Homo sapiens: one gene and its partners. The protein of the gene in region 1 interacts with the protein of each later gene in a pairwise test. Each region holds a gene or a part of one and is shown in the gene's direction. Other genes may lie near its edges.

Region 1 (5,108 bases):
CAAACAAAGGCCATAACAAATTATAATCACCCTTTCTTAGTCTACTGAGGCCCATATAATTACTTCTTGTTCTGCTTAACTTTATGAGGGGTCTTATGAACTCCTCAGTGTCTCCACTATAGTTCTGAAAATCTTTAATCAGTCTTGTGGTATGTTCTTTTTTTTTTTTTTTTTTGAGACAGAGTTTGGCTCTGTCGCCCAGGCTGGAGTGCAGTGGCACCATCTCGGCTCACTGGAAGCTCCACCTTCCGGGTTCATGCCATTCTCTCGCCTCAGCCTCCGGAGTAGCTGGGATTACAGGCATGCGCCACCACGCCCGGCTAATTTTTTGTATTTTTAGTAGAGACGGGGTTTCACTGTGTTAGCCAGGATGGTCTCGATCTCCTGACCTCGTGATCCGCCCTCCTCAGCCTCCCAAAGCGCTGAGATTACAGGCGTGAGCCACCGCGCCCGGCCCCTTTTCTTAAAAGTATTTAAATAATGACATCAGAAGGTTGCATCCCAGAGTACCTGTTATAGTCATTTCCGTGGGTCTCAGAGGGAATCCCGTTTTGTAAAGACAAAGCATGCTATCCAGTAGCTGCTTCCAAGAGCTTTCAGGAAAGCATCAGAGTAAGATATATATATATATTTGCAGTGACTTTATTTCTTCATCACATTACCTAGGGTAAATTACATAATTCACAAGAATTTGACACTGTTGTCATCAGCCACATCTGAGTGGAGCATTTGCTTCTTAGTTTGGTATTAATAGTAACTACCTATGAATGACAAAAAGCTTAAAATGGCTATGTTAAATATCTGACGTGAATTCATTATAACACAGTTGACAAAGGATTTTGGTGGTTTCTGTGGAATACAATATTTAATTTATGGAATTTAAATCATAGAATTATGACTGACTACATTATACCAGGACGTATCAGGGAGATCAAGGTTATTGACCAATTCCTAGGAACTTCATAAAATTTCTGAAACAATAAAATCTACCCATACAAATATAAGGAAATTTAAGTAACTCTTCTTATTTGACAATGCTTCCCATACATTTTAACATATCAAATGAACCTAATTAGTTTAACATCTCTCTTTTTACAAAGTGAGAGAACATGAATCCTTAGAGATTTTCCAGGGGCTCTCTGAAAAATCTAAGTTGGTTTGGGGTCAAGCAGACTTCATTTAGAATTTGATTTTTGCAAATTGTCAAAAATGTCAAAAGATTGAACACTGCATTAAATAGGATCACAGGTCACTGTGAAACAATACTTTAGTTATCCACTTACTTAAGTGACAATACAAGATTTCAAAAGTAAGTATACGAGGTAACATACTTGCAGAGAGAAAAACAGCAACAACAAACAAATAAATTAAAAAAAAACTCAGTTTTTTTTTTTTAAGTGAGAGGACTTGGTTCTCATAAATAATTAAAGATGTGATAAATGTTAACATAAAGCGTAGGAAATTATTCTGATAAGACACAGAATGTTTTCTAGGCAGATTACTTAACAGGTAAAGAAAAAGTTTTATAATTTCTTATTAAGGGCAGACCAGTAATCCAAGAAAACTTTGTTGTTTTAACAGAGAAAAACCAAACTCTAGTTTTGAATCAGTAATCTTTTGATATACATTTTGTCATTTGAAAGACCACCAGGATGGCTAAATAGTAGAAAGGAGAGCTTTATTGGCATTAACTTGCAAATTGAGAAGAGAAACTCTCCAGTGTGGATCTAAGGTGCTCTTTATTTAAAGAAGGGAATGACAGGTTAGGTCTTATGCCTCACAGGGCCTGTATTATACATATTCAGCATGTTTTGGGGGAAAAGCTATATGTATTTATGAGAGGGCATGCCCAGTGGGTAAACATGTGTATAACATACATCCCATGTTCACTCTGACGTGAGGTTTTAGCATTGAAATGACATGGAATTCAGCTCTTTATGTCAAAAGGTGAACTGTAGTACACAAAGACAGTTTGTGTGCAGTCCCTATAAGCTGGCTGAAACTGGCTTAAGTTCTGCAATAGCTAATCAGAAAAGAATATTTGTAAAGTCAGTCCTCTGTCCTGCAGAGTTGTGGTGGTTTGGGCTGTAAATCAGCCTGAGAGCTCTGTTGTTAAGAAGTTTAGCTGAGGTGTAGTTTTCCTTATAGTGGTAGGAATTTGGAAATTTGCCATGCCATCTGGGTCCTGAACACTGGACTCCTAAGTAACTTTTGTTTCCTTAGCCTTAGGCCCATCTTGTTTGATAAATGGGCATCAATTTTGATCCCTCAGATCACAAGTCTATTAAAACAAATTTTTATAAAGAAACCCATTCAAATGTAGCCAGCTTTGACCAGGCAACATAAGACTTATTTTCTATAAAACTTCTACAATTTTTCATATCAATGCAATATAAGAGTTATTTCCCACTAACATTCTAAACTTTCAGGAGTTATTTTTCTGGTGGTGGTGGTGATGGTGTGATGCCTCACAGGAGGATCTAGAAGGGCAAAATACCAGCACCTGGAGTAGAACAAAGGAGGAATATGTGTTCCACATTAGATTATGAACAATTTATGATATATTCTTCATAAAAATACAAAAAGCAGGTAGCTACTATTCTTAACTTGACAACTTAGATCACTTTCCTGCACAATAATCTTCCTACAAAGAGCAGTATGGGTTTATAAAATTATTGGATACACTGCTTATGGAAGATGTGATTCCGAAGGGTCATCCCAAGTAGCAAATGATGATCTTCCAAGGAGAGTAGGGTCAATTAACTGCTGTTTTCTTTATTTTATTGAGCTCCATAATGAGCTAGTCATGTCACTCTAGGAAATGTCACTCAATGACCATATTATTTTGCTTAATAGAGTTGAAAATTATTTCAGTTCCCTAGGAAATTCTAGGTGTAAGGAGAGGGTAACACAAAAATAACTGAATGGGAATCAACATAGGAAGTAATAGAAAGGGACAGTGTCAAGAAATCTCTGATTTAATTATTTCAGCATGTATGCCCAAACCAGCTGGCCCCAGAATAAACAAGCAGCTTGCACCTTAGCAGGACCCAAAGAGAAAAGAAATCTTTACTACACCTCATGAGAGTATTTTCATTCAGTGTAGTGTTGCCTCTCCTCCCCAAACTGATAATTGGGCACTAAGAAAAGCTCTCAAGTTGAAAAGTCCTAGGTAGAGTTTGAAAGTATCCTTAGAGAAGTGAAGAATGGATTTCCAGGCTGCAAGGTGCTATTATCAGAAGTATTTGAGTAGGTGAAGGGTATATATACAGGAACGCAGGGATGCCTTCCCATCTCTTTCATGGATCCTTCATCTTTTAAAACAATGAGCATTTCTAATCAAGTAAACACTCACATTAACATGGGTTATACAGTTAACTCACATGACATCAACAGCAAATTTGTTCTTTTTTAAATCCAGGTAAGGTCTATTCATGTCATGTCTCTAATCTCTACATAAAACCAAGAATTACATGTTTAGTTTTATTTTTTGAAATTTAGTGAAGTAGCTGCTGGTTGTTTCTGTGAGGGACAAGAAAGATAAAACATAATTAATGTTATTTATGTTAACTTTTCTGCCACATTTTACATCTTGAAATTCTAAAAAATGCAAATCTGCTTGCAAAATGAACTGGGTCTGGATCTGAATTGGCTGAAGCTATTTAAGTCTTCTAACCACAGTTTCATAATCTGAAACATGTGAATATGTACAAAATGATTTTGATTAGAGATGATATGTATAAAATACTTAGTATACATTAACAAAATATATGGATCACATATTGATTTGCTGTACACCTGCACTGAATTAACCAGGTTTCAATAATGGCTTGGGCACAATACTAGGAAAAGTCTCTTCCAATAGAAATGTATTAGGTTGGTGCAAAAGCAATTATGGTTTTTGCCATTAAAAATAATGCCATTAAAAGCAATTAATGGCAATTGCTTTTCCACCAACCTAGTATTATTGGTTAACCAGAAGTTACGTAGCCCATGCAGAATCAATGCCAGCAAAATGTTAAACCACCCTTTAATATTCCCCTGTTGACAAAATAAATAAATAAAGGCAGCAAGCGATAGAAAAGCTGTGGGTATAAGGCTTGCTGATAATCTGGGCTGGTGAGAACATAGACTTGGAAATAAGCCTTGACTTGTATAGTTACCCTACTTTTTATCACAATCAAGTAACCTTCCTAACTTCTCAAAAAGTGGCTAGAAAGTTTTAGTTTTCTTAAAGAACACAGTGATAATCTTTCACTTACCATCTGCAAAATGCTGAACATCAAGCACAAAACAATTCTTCCCTTCCAGAATGTAGTCATGTAGACTACAGTGTTAATGGCAATTCTGTGACTTATTTTCAGGGGTTTAGCATTTTCATTTAGCTGATTAAAATCTGTTGTAGATGATAATTATGCCGGTTTTTAAAATCATTCAAACACTCAAAAATGATTTTAAAATCTTTAAATGGCTTGTAGCAGATTTTTATTTCTCAAAGGGTTTCTTTGAGAAAATTATGGAAGCAAATTATGGAAAATTTGCTTAAATTATACACCTTTGTCATATTCTCAGTAAATGTTAAATCAATGTAAAATGAGTGGATTTGTATTTCTAAAAATAACCTTTTTCACAGGAAGAAGAACTAAGGAAGAGTGGGGAAGCCAAATATGCCCACTTGAGTGATGAGCTTCATGTATTAATTGAAGTGTTTGCTCCACCTGGGGAAGCTTATTCACGTATGAGTCATGCATTGGAAGAGATTAAAAAATTCCTGGTTCCTGTAAGTGTCTTTCATTTTTTACAAAGATGTTTCTTATCAGCTTCTATTTTAAAATGCACCTTTGATCTTCACTGACTTTTTAAAAGGAAACTCATATTGCAAACCAATGATCTATCCACAGGTCGATACAAAGCTAAAAAATAAAATAGGATACCAAAACCACTTAACACAGGACCTGGCGTGTTGCCATATAGTGATGGTTCCATAGCAATGTTTGTCATGCTGGTGTCATGCCATGCATCGGTTCATAGTCATGAAGAAAAAGACATGTTTATAAACAGAAATATATAATTGAAGTTGTATACTTTTTTATTGCATCTCCATCACT
Region 2 (4,384 bases), on another chromosome or scaffold:
GATCTTGAACTTGTAGCTTCAAGAGATCCTCCTTCCTTAGACTCCCAAAGTGCTGGGATTTATAGGCGAGAGCCACCAGTTTATATGTGTTTTTTAAAGGTACAAAGATGAAACCTGTAGTTTGTATTAGGGAAACAAATGAAAATAAGTAGTTGCAGTTTAGTATAAAAAGTTGAAACTGAAGTATGTATATAAAAAAGTACTATGGGAGCTCAAAGGTTTTTCTTAAAATTTTTATTCTGTATTAGAAAAGGGGGAGGTGAGTGGGCTTTCTGCTTTTGTCCTCTTTCTGCGTGTTTATTCAATACTATTTTGGGCCTCTACCATAGACCTTTATTAATTGGTAAGCTTGCATGTTTTTATTAGTAAACTGGCATATGATGTTGCAAAAAAAAAAAAGTACCAGAAAATATCCAGTCTGCTTGTGTGACTTTGATTTCCGTAGTAACTTGTCATAAATAAGATATCTTGTTGTTTTTCTTTTCACAGATGCTGCACTTAAAAGGATGCTTGTTTTGATGTCCTGCTCATTGTTTTCCCTATGAAGTATCAGTAATCCATCCTAGAGGTGGTGTTCTTTTTAAGAATTTGAGAAGGAAAACGTAGTTCCCAGCTACTTTTATATAATGTGAGCAAACAAAATATTTGTTACAACACTTCATTCAAATTTATTTAATATCAAGGTTGTACTCAGTTTAATTCATATTTCCACTATGTGATTATAATAATACCTTTTTTATTTTACAAATACTGTATAAAGAAAGAATGCAGGTTACTCTGTGGCATATTTCTGTAATTTAGAAGTAAAGTAGCCTGAGTATAGGGTTTATTTCTATTTTTGCCATAACTCCTTTCACTGTAATAACTAAGATATGCTAGTTGCAACTTTAAAGAAATAGAATAAACTAGATTCAATTGCAGTTCTTATTTTCACCCTTAATTTTTCTTAATGATAGACACTTTGTCAGTACATCTTAGCATGTCTCCCTTGAATGACTACTCTTTTAAACTTTCAAATCTGAGGAGAGCTAACATAATTAGGCTAGTGTCTCTCATCAGTAAAAAGTCATTCCATTTTCAGCTGCAGCTGAAAAGGTTGAATAGCACTTCTTTTTGTTTAAACCAAGGTTCAGTTAGAAATTGTATCTTGACAAGCTTAAAATTAAATCTGGTAAGTGTTGGTTTGATCTTAGGCTTCTGTATAGATAGGGATAGATTTTCTTTAGCCTTGAAGGAGATTAGTCAGTTATAGTTGTAACTCAATTGCTTTTCCTTATTTTTCTATTTAGCATTTTTGTTAGTGTATTTAATCATTTCCCTTTCTTTTCTTTTTTTTTTAATTGCAGTTGTGCCTTTAAATGGCTCCAGTGAAAAGTAAGATGTAAATGCAGATAATTACAGAACTTACATACAAAGAGTGTGTAAGAGGGGAAGGGAGAGTGAGAAACTCAGGCTTCACAGAGGTGACACTTGAATTGGGGTTAAGTTGAAGAACAGACAAACTTAGACACAAAGCTATGCAAAAATTGTGATGAACAAGGAAAAAGTAAGTTTGGAAAGGAAAGCACAGGTCAGATTATATTTATTCTCAGGATTTTGGACTTTTTTATTAGGGAAATTTAAACAAGGGGAATGATCTTATATTTGTATTCTAGAAAGATTACTCTGGCAGCAGCAGTATGAAGGATGGCTTGTAGGAGATAAGAGAAATATCTTATCACCAGGGTAAACTCTCCTGTGGTAGGTAAAACTGTGGAGGTGCATTAGAATGCTCAAAATGAGAAAGAGGCTAAGTAGTGCTCCCTGAAGAGCACCATTATTTCACAAGTTAGAGAGAAAAGACTCAATGGAGACTTAAAAGACAAAACACAAATAGGGAAACAAAGGGAGATGCGGAGTTATGGAAGCCAAGAGAGAAGTGGTTTATGGTGTCAGATTCTCAGAGGGGTCAGGTAAAAAAAAATAAAGTTTGAAAACATTGATAGGGAAACTTAGCCACAGCAGTCTCTCTAGATTAATGGGACAGAAACCAGATTCCATTTGGTAAGAAGGGTACAGAGAAACTAGTTTTCTTTCAGGATACTTGGCTTTGAAGAGATCAGAGAACCAGAGATTTACTAGAACAGTTTTGCTGTAGAACTGTTAAGATTTTCAGATGTACTTATTGCTTATTTTTGTTTCTTAGATGATGGTAATTCTCATTTTTAGAACTGGTCATCAGGAGAGTTTAAAAACCTTTTCTGCTGCTTGCCCTGTGAGGTGTTTAAACAGAAGAACCGTATTTGGGGTACTGTATTTTACATCCTAGCCAACTGAAAATAATCTATAGGCTGGGTGCAGTGGCTCACACCTGTAATCCCGGCACTTTGGGAGGTCAAGGTGGGCGGATTACCTGAGGTCAGGATTTCAAGACCAGCCTTGTCAACATGGTGAAACTCCATCTCTACTAAAAATACAAAAATTAGCTGGGCATGGTGGCACGCACCTGTAATCCAAGCTACTCAGGAGGCTGAGACAGGAGAATTGCTTGAGCCTGGGAGACGGAGGTTGCAGTGAGCCGAGATCGCACCACTGCACTCCAGACTGGCTGACAGTGCGAGACTCTGTCTCAAAAAAAAAAAAAAAAAAAAAAAATCTATAAATGATGTATTAAAACCACAGGAGGTACTGTCTTTTCTCTTGCTAATATCTGGCCTGGAAAAATGAGGTATAACAATTCTCGTGTATGAATTGTTTAGAATAAAAATTGTAGTTTGAAATTTTGTAGCTGTTTCTAAGGAAAAAGTTACCTTTTGTGTATCACTGTGTTAGAGAAGAAAGTAAGAACAGTTGCTTCAGATTATTTTCATAACATTTTCCCTTGTCTGTAGGAGAAAAATAGATATATTTTGAGTACTATTTTAAAGTGTTTTTTTTTTTCTTTTTTTTGAGATGAGGTCTCCCTCTGTTGCCCAGGCTGGAGTGCAGTGGTGTGATCTTGGCTCCCTGCAACCTCCGCCTCCTGAGTTCAAGCAATTCTCTTGCCTCAGCGTCTCAAGTACCTGGGACTACAGGCCTGCACCACCACGCCTGGCTAATTTTTTAATTTTTAGTAGAGATGGGGTTTCACTGTGTTGGCCAGGCTGGTCTCAAACTCCTGACCTCAAGTGATCCTCCTGCCTCGGCCTCCCAAAGTGCTGGGATTACAGGCGTGAGCCACCGCGCCTGGCCCCCTGAAGTGTAAACTATCCGCATCTGTGACAAAGCATTCAGTTTCTCCCCTCTTCCTTCAGAAAATAATCTCTAACATACAGCTAATTATGGACTTTCCTGGCACAGAAGGAATGATGCTATAACCTAACTAGGTGGACTGTCTGTGGATACTACTGGTAATTATGACACTAGTGATTTTGTAAGTGGACTGTTTATATGGTACTTACTAAATTCAAATATGGGCACGTAATGAAAGTGGGCATTAGCTGCACATACATTAAATGGAATTTAGTAATTTAAAAATATCGATTCATTTTTCTTGAAAAATTAAAAAGGGAGAAAATTCATCTATAATCTAAGTTTTTTTGTTAAATTTAACTGTGGAAAATTTTTGGAAACTGGTTTCCTTAATATGCTGTTCAGCCAAAAGTTTTGGAAGGTCTCCATCAAGAAAACAAAATTATTCATCAAAAAATGAAAACTGTGTGGAAGAAACTTTTGAAGATTTGCTTTTAAAGTATAAACAAATACAGTTGGAACTAGAATGCATCAATAAGGATGAAAAACTAGCATTGAGTAGCAAAGAAGAGAATGTGCAGGAAGATCCTAAAACATTGAACTTCGAGGACCAAACTAGCACTGATAATGTCAGTATTACAAAGGATTCAAGTAAAGAAGTAGCTCCTGAGGAGAAAACACAAGTCAAAACTTTTCAGGCATTTGAATTAAAACCACTCAGGCAAAAATTGACTTTACCAGGAGATAAGAACCGTTTGAAAAAAGTTAAAGATGGAGCAAAACCACTTTCCCTGAAATCCGACACTACTGATTCTAGTCAAGGTAATGGAATTAAATATTTCAGTTAGTAATGACTCTTCTTCCTCTAAAGTAGTAACTACTTGTTTTGGCAGTGTACTTCATTGAAATGATTGTAATTATCTGTAAATTCTTTTGTACTTTCTATGTAGACATTCATATCATTGAATAATTACTAATTTTGTTTACTTTTAGTCTTTATTTATTTATTTATTTTTTGCCTGACATTCTGGCCTCTATAATAGAATGTTATACATAAGTGATAATAGTGGACACCTTTGTTTCCTAATTTAAAGAAAATGGTTTTGACATTTACCATTAAATATGATGTTAATTTTTTTGTAGGTATCCCTTATCGGGTAAAGGAGGGTTTTAC
Region 3 (4,384 bases), on another chromosome or scaffold:
TTTGTCTTTTAACTATGTTCCACAAAAGATGTAGGCAGAGTAGTGTGTTCCAAAGGTACTTAGATTAGTGCTTGTTTTTAAAATCAGTATAATGAAATTATCTGTTTTATATATAGTTAAGCTGATTTATGTCTGCTTTATTCCATTATAGGGATTTTCCCCCCATCTTCATTGACCTCCTCAGGGTTTTATTTTTTATTTTATTTTATTTTTTTGAGGTGGAGTCTAGTTCTGTCACCCAGGCTGGAGTACAGTGTGACTGTTCAAGCAATTCTTCTGCCTCAGCTTCCCGAGTAACTGGGATTACAGGTGTGCACCACCACACCCAGCTAATTTTTGCGTTTTTTTGTTTTGTTTTTTGAGACGGAGTCTTGCTCTGTCACCCAGGCTGGAGTGCAGTGGCGCGATCTCGGCTCACTGCAAGCTCTACCTCCCGGGTTCACGCCATTCTCCTGCCTCAGCCTCCCGAGTAGCTGGGACTACAGGTGCCCACCACCACGCCTGGCAATTTTTTTTTTTTGTATTTTAGTAGAGATGGGGTTTCACCATGTTAGCCAGGATGGTCTCGATCTCCTGACCTCGTGATCCACCTGCCTTGGCCTCCCAAAGTGCTGGGATTACAGGCGTGAGCCACTGCACCCAGCCAATTTTTGCGTTTTTAATAGAGACAGGGTTTTGCTGTTGGCCAGGCTGGTGTCGAACTCCTGACCTCAAGTGATGGGATTACAGGTGTGAGCTACCGCACCTAGCCACCCTCAGAGTTTTAGAGTGAGCTTGGCATCACTATAAATGCACAGTTATCAAACCTTAACCGAACCTCAGAACTGCCCAGAAACCCTGTTGCATTTAATAGTATCTAATCAGCAATACCCTCTTTGAACCTATTCCAGTCCTCACAGACTTTCAAACCACTGGCCTCCACATTCTGGCCACTCCTCATTTCTCCTCCCCTCTTCCATGCAGCTTCTGTGTGAGGAGGTCTTTTACATATTCCCCTCCTGCATGCCACCCTCCAGTGTATTTCCCACGCAGCAGTTGGACCAGTCTTTCAGACATAGATCAGATCATAGTTAACAACTCTGGCTTAAAACCCTTCAGTGATGCTGCTTCACACCCATTACGATGGGTAGTATCAGAATAACCAGAAAATAAACAAGCGTTGTCAAGGATGTGGAGAAATTGGAACTCTTGTGCACTCTTGGGAATGTAAAATGGTGCAGCCACTATGGAAAACAATATGACAGTTCTTCAAAAAATTACCGTATAATCCTGCATGTCCACTTCCGGGCATATACCCAAAAGAATTGAAAGTAGGTCTTGAAAAGATATTTGTACACCCATGTTCGTAGAAGCATTATTCACAGTAGCCAAAAGGTGAAAGCAGCTTGGCTGTCCATTGATAAGATGAATGGATGAACAAAATTTGGTATGTAAATACAGTAGAATATTATTCGGCTTTAAAAAGGAAGGAAATTCTGGCCCGTGCTACAACATGGATGAACCTTGAAGACATTATACTAAATTAAATAAGCCATTCACAAAAGGACAAATTCTGTGTGATTCTATTAAAAGTACCTAGATTAGTCAAATTTGTAGAGACAGACAGTGGATGGTGGTTGCCAGATACTGGGGCAAGAGGGGAATAGGAAGGGGAGTTAGTGATTAATGGGTACAGAGTTTGTTTTGCAAAATGAAAAGAGATCTGGAGATGGATGGTAGGTGATTGCACAACAGTGTTAATGTACTTAACAGTACTGAACACTTAAAAATGGTTAAGATGGTAAATTTTATGCATATTTTACCACAGTTAAAAGTCTTTAGGGAATACTCATTGCTGTTAGGATAAAGAGCACAATCCTTGATGAGGCCTTAAAGCATTCACCCCTTCAATCTCACCTTGTACTGCCTTCCCCGCATCCCTGTGCTTCAGCCACAGTGTCATTCTTCTGCCCTCTTCAGACCTCTTCCCTCTGTCTAAAGTGCTCTCCCTGACCTCACGTAGCCAACTCCTGTTTATCTTTTGGTTACCGATTTAAACGTCAGTTCCTTAGAGAAGCTTCCTCTGGCCCCCAGGCTTACAGCTTCAAAACATTTTAGTAAAATGTTTTTTTTGGAGTCAGGTTTCCCTCTGTTGCCCAGGCAGGCTGGAGTACAGTGGCACAATCAGCTCACTTATAAACAGGCCAAGCAGCCTCAACCTACTGGGCTCAAGTGACCCTCCCACCTGAGCCTCCCAAATAATTGGGTCTACAGGCATGTGCCACCATGCCCAGCCAGTTTTTTATTTTTTGTAGAGATGAGGTCTTTGCTGTGTTGCCCTGGATCAAAACATCATTTTTTAAGCATTTAATCCATCAGATATTTTACATTTACCTTCTTAGGGTTGGTCTTCCCTCCTTGCCTGTGATCTCCTTGAGGGCAGGGTTTGGGTGTCTTCTGCATGCAATAGACAAAGGGAGGGAAGGGGAAGTGAGCCAGGCCTGGCCGGCAGAATGCTGCGCCTCTGAGGAAAGGGGGAAGTGAGCCAGGCCTGGCCGGCAGAATGCCGCGCCTCTGGGTGTTGCACACTCCCTGACACCCTGGCCCCTCTTAGTGGGTAAGGGAGGGACATTTGGAGTGTGGTCTCTTGACTTCTTCACTCTGGACTTCCACTGGGAGAGAAATTGACAAAACCTGTGGAAGAACCTAGGAATTATACTGGCCATTCATGCTCATTAGAGCATTCCGTCTGTTCAGCAATACTGAAAGAGAATTGTGATCCTGTCTCTATTTGTTTTTTAAGTACATTTGTTTGAGGGGTTTGTGTGTGAGGGAGGGGATATGTGTTGTGTTTTGTTTTGTTTTTTGATTACTGTGAAATGAGGGACACAATAGTACTACCTCAGGGTTTTTCTGAGAATGGAATGAGATGTCAGCACATAGAGTGCTTAGCGCTTAGTCCAGCTCTTAGTAAAATACACAAAGGGGAAAAAAATGTGATCACCAGGAGTCATCTCCGTGGAAATGGGCGGTGAAAGCTGAGGTATGGCTCTGCCTCCTGATCAGAGGCCCTGTCTCCCTCCTATGCCTTTCAGCCATAGCTTCCTCCATGTAGCCCTCTTTATTAGGTCATTGTGGCATGTCTTGCCTCTTCCAGCAATTTGTGCTCCTCAGTGAGCAAACTGTGATTTGCTAAGAAATATAAACCTATTGTGTTCCATTCTGCTGTACCCTTTCTGTGTCGGATGAGATGGTAGGCTGTCTTTTGCCACAACCAAAATGGCAGTTGTTCTTTCAAGGCTTAGAAATTGTGTGAGAACTTCTCCTTCAGGACCTGGTGGTTTTTTAATCAGGCCTGAATTTTACACATGCCTAGGGAGATCAGAGGCCTCCCTCTGATCTGATTAAAAGGAAAGAAGACTTGAATTTACCCTCCCACCCAGCTTGGGCAGGCAAGCAGCTCATTTTTTACCCATGGATGTCCAATGGCCCCAACATCATTTGTTATTCCTTCATTGAATTACTTTTGAAACTTTGTCAAAAATCAGTTGTCTGTACATCTGTGGATCTATCTCTGGATCCCTTGTTCTTTTCCATTGATCTCTATGTCTCTTCCTCTGTCAATATTACTCTATCAGTATTGATTATTGTAGGCCTTAATATTGAGTAGAATAATTCCTCCCACTTTTTCTTCGTCAAGGTAGTTGTAGCTATTCTAGGTTCTGTGCCTTTTCTTTTTTTTCTTTTTTCTTTCTTTTTTTTTTTCTTTGTTTGAGACAGAGTCTCACTGTGTCTCAAAAAGGCTCAGGCTGGAGTGCAGTGGTGTGATCTTGGCTCACTTCAACCTCTGCCTCCGGGGTTCAAGTGATTCTCCTGCCTCAACCTTCTGAGTAGCTGGGACTACAGATGCGTGCCACCATGCCTGGCTAATTTTTTGTATTTTTAGTAGAGACGGGGTTTTACCATGTTAGCCAGGATGGTCTCGATCTCCTGACCTCGTGACCCACCCATCTTAGCCTCCCAAAGTGCTGGGATTACAGACGTGAGCCACCGCACCTGGCCTCTGTGCCTTTTCATATAAACTTTAGAGTAAGCTTGTGTATATCTATGAAAAACCTTGCTAGGATTTTGATAGGAGTTGCATTAAACCTATAGATTAGTTTGGGGAGAATTGACATTCTTGCTATGAACATGATATATCTTATCTCTCCATTTATTAATATTTAGGTTTTATTTGATTTCCATCAGTATCATTTGTAATTTTCAACATATAGATCCTGTACATAGCTTGTTATTTGTTTAAAGCAGAAAGGGAGATGATTATGAATGGCATATTCTGTCCTTTGTTTTGGTTTTCAAATGTTCATTGTTAGTGTGTAGAAATGTAGTTGATTTTCCTGTGTTG
Region 4 (5,092 bases), on another chromosome or scaffold:
ATTGAATGCAAATAGGACAAAGACCAAGGAGGATGGGGGGATGCCCTCCTTCCACGGGGCCCTGTGGCTTCCAAGTCTTAATCTCCTCTAGTCTCTTGTCTACGGAGCCTCCTTCAAACCCAGGGAAAGAAAATCACCTGCCAGGGTTGTTTTTCTTCTAGGATCTTCTATTGATGCTCTGTGAGGTCCCCCAGGAGCCATGAAGCTAGGGCTGGCTCCTAGGGCAATGGGACTACAGTGTCCTTGTCCTTTCTTATTCTTTCTGTTCTTTCTTTCTTTCTTTTTTTTTTTTTTTTTTTTTTTTTGAGACAGAGTCTCACTCTGTTGCCCAGGCTGGAGTGCAGTGGTGTGATCTTGGCTCACTGAAACCTCCGCCTCCTGGGTTCAAGTGATTCTCTTGCCTCAGCCTCCTGAGTAGCTAGGATTACAGATGCCCGCCATCATGCCCAGCTAATTTTTGTATTTTTAGTAGAGACAGGGTTTCACCATGTTGGCCAGCTTGGTCTCGAACTCCTGACCTCAGGTGATCCTGCTGCATCGACCTCCCAAAGTACTGGGATTACAGGCGTGAGCCACCACGCTCAGCCTCTTTCTTGTTCTATATGTCCATGCTCTGCTCCACTTCTGCCCCTTCACTCTGCCCCCACACATCACTCCAGACTGGCCTTGTGGTCAGAGCCTGGAATGCCTGGGCTGCTGGGGGCCTGTGGACTGCACTGGGCCAGAACCCCTGCCGCCTTCAAGACTGGCCTGTAGCCAGCAGGTAGGTGACTTTTCCCAGGCCGGCCTATCCCACCTTTCCCCTCCACTCACTCACCTCCCTTGCCTGGGTCAATTAGAGAAAGCTTGTCGGCCAGGCATGGTGGCTCATGCCTGTAATCTCAGCACTTTGGGAGGCCGAGGCGGGCGGATCATCTGAGCTCAGGAGTTTGAGACCAGCCTGGCCAACATGGCAAAACCCCGTCTCTACTAAAAATACAAAAATTAACCGGATGTGGTGGTGTGCACCTGTAATCCCAGCTACTCGGGAGGCTGAGGCAGAAGAATCGCTTGAACCCAGGAGGGGGAGGTTACAGTGAGCGGAGATCGTGCTACTGCATTGCAGCCTGGGCGAGAGAGCGAGTCTCCATCTCATATAAAAAAAAGAAAAAGAAAGAAAGAAAGCTTGTCTGTTGGCCTGCCCTGCAGGGTGGAGTTCAGAGGGAAGGTCAGGAGCCTAGTGACAGCTCAAAAAAAAAAAAACCCAAATACCAATGTTGGCCCCTTTTGCCTTTCATTCATGTGTTTTCTATACACTAAACTCACATATTGGGTTTGCAGATCACTCCAAGCTTGGCTGGAGCTGTGGTGGTAAGGAGGGTAATAGAGAAGCTTCCCCACCCTCAACCCCACCCCTTCCTTCCTGGAGTTCCCAGCCCTGACTTTAGATCCCTCCCACACTGGACCTTCAAAACCCTCAGGGCAGAGAGCAGCCCTACACTCCCTACACCACACCCATACTCAGCCCCTGCAGGCAAGGAGAGAACAGGTCAGGTTCCCGAGAGCTCAGGTGAGTGACACGTTGGAATGGCCCAGGGCACCTTCACCCTGCTCAGCTTGTGGCTCCAACATTCTAGAAGCCGAGGCCTCTGCCATCCCTGCCCTTTCCCATGGATATTCCATTTCAATTAGACAACCCAGCCTGGCCGGAATCCCCCTGCGTTCCTTCTTTTCCTTTGTGTATTTTTGAGACAGGGTGTTGCTCCGTCACCCAGGCTGGAGTGTAGTGGGATCCTGGCCCACTGCAGCCTCAAATTCCTAGGCTGAGGCAATCCTGCCGCCTCAGCCTCCTGAGTAGCTGGGGTTACAAGAGCAAGCCACCACACCCAGCTAATTTTGAAAAATATTTTTTGTAGAGGAGAGGTCTTGCTTTGTTGTCCAGGTTGGTCTCAAACTCCAGGGCTCAAGGGATCCTTTCCCGTTGGCCTCCCAAGGCTCTGGGATTACAGGCGGGAGTCACCCTGCCTGGGCCCCTCCTTTTGATGAGTCATCAGTTTTCATTCCCGCACGAGGCTCTAGCCCCTGGTACCAGCTTAGTTGCTCAATGGGCTGTGTTTGTTCTGGAGCCCAGATGGACTGTGGCCAGGCAAGTGGATCACAGACCTGGCCGGCCTGGGAGGTTTCCACATGTGAGGGGCATGAGGGGGGCTCAAGGAGGGGAGCATCGGGGAGAGGAGCGCACTGGGTGGAGGCTGGGGGTCCCAGCAGGAAATGGTGAGACAAAGGGCGCTGGCTGGCAGGGAGACAGCACAGGCAGGCCCTAGAGCTTCCTCAGCACAGCTGGACTCTCCTGGAGACCTTCACACACCCTGATATCTGGGCCCCGCGCTACGAGGGTGCTTTCACTGGTCTGCACTATGCCCCAGGCCCTGGGATTTTGAACAGCTCTGCAGGTGACTGAAAGGTGCGGCCAGGCTGGGGAACGACCTGGTTTCAGCCCCAGCCCCGCCACTGACTGACTTTGTGAGTGCGGGCAAGTCACTCAGCCTCCCTAGGCCTCAGTGACTTCCCTGAAAGCAAAAACTCTGCAAAGGGGCAGCTGGGTGCTGGCTCACACCTGTAATCCCAGCACTTTGGGAGGCTGAGGTAGACAAATCACTTGAGGCCAGGAGTTCTAGACCAGCCTGGCCAACATGGTGAAACCCCATCTCTACTAAAGAAAAAAAAAAATTAGCTGAGCATGGTTGTACATGCTTGTAATCCCAGCTACTTGGGATGCCGAGGCGGGAGGATTGCTTGAACCCAAGAGGTGGAGTTTGCAGTGAGCTGAGATTGTGCCACACTGCACTCCAGCTTGGGTGAGAGTGAGACTCCATCTCAAAAAAAAAAAAAAAAAAGAGAGAATCCCACTTTCTTGCTGTTGTGATGGTGGTAAGGGAACGGGCCTGGCTCTGGCCCCTGATGCAGGAACATGGAGCTGATCCAGGACACCTCCCGCCCGCCACTGGAGTACGTGAAGGGGGTCCCGCTCATCAAGTACTTTGCAGAGGCACTGGGGCCCCTGCAGAGCTTCCAAGCCCGACCTGATGACCTGCTCATCAACACCTACCCCAAGTCTGGTAAGTGAGGAGGGCCACCCACCCTCTCCCAGGCGGCAGTCCCCACCTTGGTCAGCAAGGTCGTGCCCTCAGCCTGCTCACCTCCTATCTCCCTCCCTCTCCAGGCACCACCTGGGTGAGCCAGATACTGGACATGATCTACCAGGGCGGCGACCTAGAGAAGTGTAACCGGGCTCCCATCTACGTACGGGTGCCCTTCCTTGAGGTCAATGATCCAGGGGAACCCTCAGGTGCATGGCTGGGTCCTGGGGGTAAGGGAAGTGGAGGAAGACAGGGCTGGGGCTTCAGCTCACCAGACCTTCCCTGACCCACTACTCAGGGCTGGAGACTCTGAAAGACACACCGCCCCCACGGCTCATCAAGTCACACCTGCCCCTGGCTCTGCTCCCTCAGACTCTGTTGGATCAGAAGGTCAAGGTGAGGCCGGGCTCAATGGTTCACACCTGTCATCCCAGTTTGAGACTGAGGAGGGAGGATCCCTTGAAGGCGAGAGATGGAGACCAGCCTGGGCAACATTGCTGTAGAGATGACATCCCATCTCTACAAAAATAAAATTAACAACCTGGTATGGTGGCATAGACTGTTCCCAGTTACTTAGGAGGCTCAGCGGGGAGGACTGTTTATGCAAATAGGAAGCTGCAATGAGCCCTGATGATCCTGCTGCTGCACTCCAGCCTGGGCAACACAGCAAAACCATCTCTACGAAAAAAAAAGTTCCCACTGACTGGCAAGGAAAGCCAGGAAGGGGGGCTCAGGTGCCCTCTCAGCCATGTACCTGTTCTTCTGGAAGGGCCTCCTCGCTTCTGCCAGGCTCATCACATCTTTTTTTTTTTTTGAGACAGAGTCTTGCTCTGTCACCCTGGCTGGAGTGCAGTGGCATGATCTCAGCTCACTGCAACCTCCGCCTCCCCAGTTCAAGTGATTCTCCTGCCTCAGCCTCCTGAGTAGCTGGGATTACAGGCGTGTGCTACCACACCCGGCTAATTTTTGTATTCTTTTTAGTAGAGACGGGGTTTCACCATGTTGGTCAAGTGGATCTCAAACTCTTGACCTTGTGATCCTCCTGCCTCGACCTCACAAAGTGCTGGAATTACAGGCGTGAGCCACCGCGCCTGGCCCTTTTTTTTTTTGAGACAGTTTCACTCTTGTTGCCGAGGCTAGAGCGCAATCGTGTGATCTCGGTTCACTGCAACCACCGCCTCCTGGGTTCAAGCAATTCTCCTGCTTCAGCCTCCCAAGGAGCTGGGATTACAGGTACCTGCCACCACGCCCGGCTAATTTTGTATTTTTAGTAGAGATGGGGTTTCACCATGTTGGTCAGGCTGGTCTTGAACTCCTGACCTCAGGTGATCTGGCCACCTTGGCCTCCCAAAGTGCCGGGATTAGAGGCATGAGCCACCACGCCCAGCCTTCATCACATCTTGAGAGAGGACACTGTCTGCCTCTTGCTCTGATGAGGGTCTGATGCAAGGATAGTGAGTCTCTACAGTGCACACTTAAGAAAGGCAGCATGTGGGTGCTCACAGGTCAGCGGAGGAGGGGGAGCTGGTGGGGACCAGGCATGCCTTGCTCCAGATCAGGATATGATGGCATTGGTGCAGATTATATTAGTATAGAATATGGTCTCAGGAACCAGGCAGGACTTTGGCTTCCGAGCAGGGTTCAGATCCCAGCTTGGCCCTACCTGTGCAGTGAGATCTCAAGCAAGTCAGCCTCTAAGCCTCAGGTTCCTCCTTTGCCAGTTCAACAGATGAGCTGGCCTGGGGTGGGCTGTGTGGTGATGGTGCTGGGGCTGGGTCCTCTGCCCCTGCAGGTGGTCTATGTTGCCCGAAACCCAAAGGACGTGGCGGTCTCCTACTACCATTTCCACCGTATGGAAAAGGCGCACCCTGAGCCTGGGACCTGGGACAGCTTCCTGGAAAAGTTCATGGCTGGAGAAGGTGGGCTTGACTGGAGGAAGGAGGGTGTGAAGCCGAGGGGTGGTGGCTATAACG

What was found. The genes of interacting proteins can lie anywhere in the genome.
Region 2: the proteins of KHDRBS2 (region 1) and ZFC3H1 interact in a two-hybrid assay, tested with the Homo sapiens proteins (one large-scale study listed by BioGRID).
Region 3: the proteins of KHDRBS2 (region 1) and PSMF1 interact in a two-hybrid assay, tested with the Homo sapiens proteins (one large-scale study listed by BioGRID and IntAct).
Region 4: the proteins of KHDRBS2 (region 1) and SULT1A3 interact in a two-hybrid assay, tested with the Homo sapiens proteins (one large-scale study listed by BioGRID).

Annotation. Positions count from the first base shown.
Region 1 is NC_000006.12:61,977,738-61,982,845, reverse strand, and holds part of KHDRBS2 (KH domain-containing, RNA-binding, signal transduction-associated protein 2), read left to right. Parts: intron 1-4,633; coding exon 4,634-4,780; intron 4,781-5,108. UniProt on the Homo sapiens protein: RNA-binding protein that plays a role in the regulation of alternative splicing and influences mRNA splice site selection and exon inclusion. Binds both poly(A) and poly(U) homopolymers. Phosphorylation by PTK6 inhibits its RNA-binding ability.
Region 2 is NC_000012.12:71,656,533-71,660,916, reverse strand, and holds part of ZFC3H1 (zinc finger C3H1 domain-containing protein), read left to right. Parts: exon of another isoform or gene 1-546; intron 547-3,615; coding exon 3,616-4,032; intron 4,033-4,384. UniProt on the Homo sapiens protein: Subunit of the trimeric poly(A) tail exosome targeting (PAXT) complex, a complex that directs a subset of long and polyadenylated poly(A) RNAs for exosomal degradation. The RNA exosome is fundamental for the degradation of RNA in eukaryotic nuclei.
Region 3 is NC_000020.11:1,128,534-1,132,917, forward strand, and holds part of PSMF1 (proteasome inhibitor PI31 subunit), read left to right. Parts: intron 1-4,384. UniProt on the Homo sapiens protein: Plays an important role in control of proteasome function. Inhibits the hydrolysis of protein and peptide substrates by the 20S proteasome. Also inhibits the activation of the proteasome by the proteasome regulatory proteins PA700 and PA28.
Region 4 is NC_000016.10:30,197,779-30,202,870, forward strand, and holds the start of SULT1A3 (sulfotransferase 1A3), read left to right. Parts: upstream 1-1,476; 5' UTR 1,477-1,549; intron 1,550-2,946; 5' UTR 2,947-2,950; coding exon 2,951-3,098; intron 3,099-3,202; coding exon 3,203-3,328; intron 3,329-3,417; coding exon 3,418-3,515; intron 3,516-4,911; coding exon 4,912-5,038; intron 5,039-5,092. UniProt on the Homo sapiens protein: Sulfotransferase that utilizes 3'-phospho-5'-adenylyl sulfate (PAPS) as sulfonate donor to catalyze the sulfate conjugation of phenolic monoamines (neurotransmitters such as dopamine, (R)-adrenaline/epinephrine, (R)-noradrenaline/norepinephrine and serotonin) and phenolic and catechol drugs.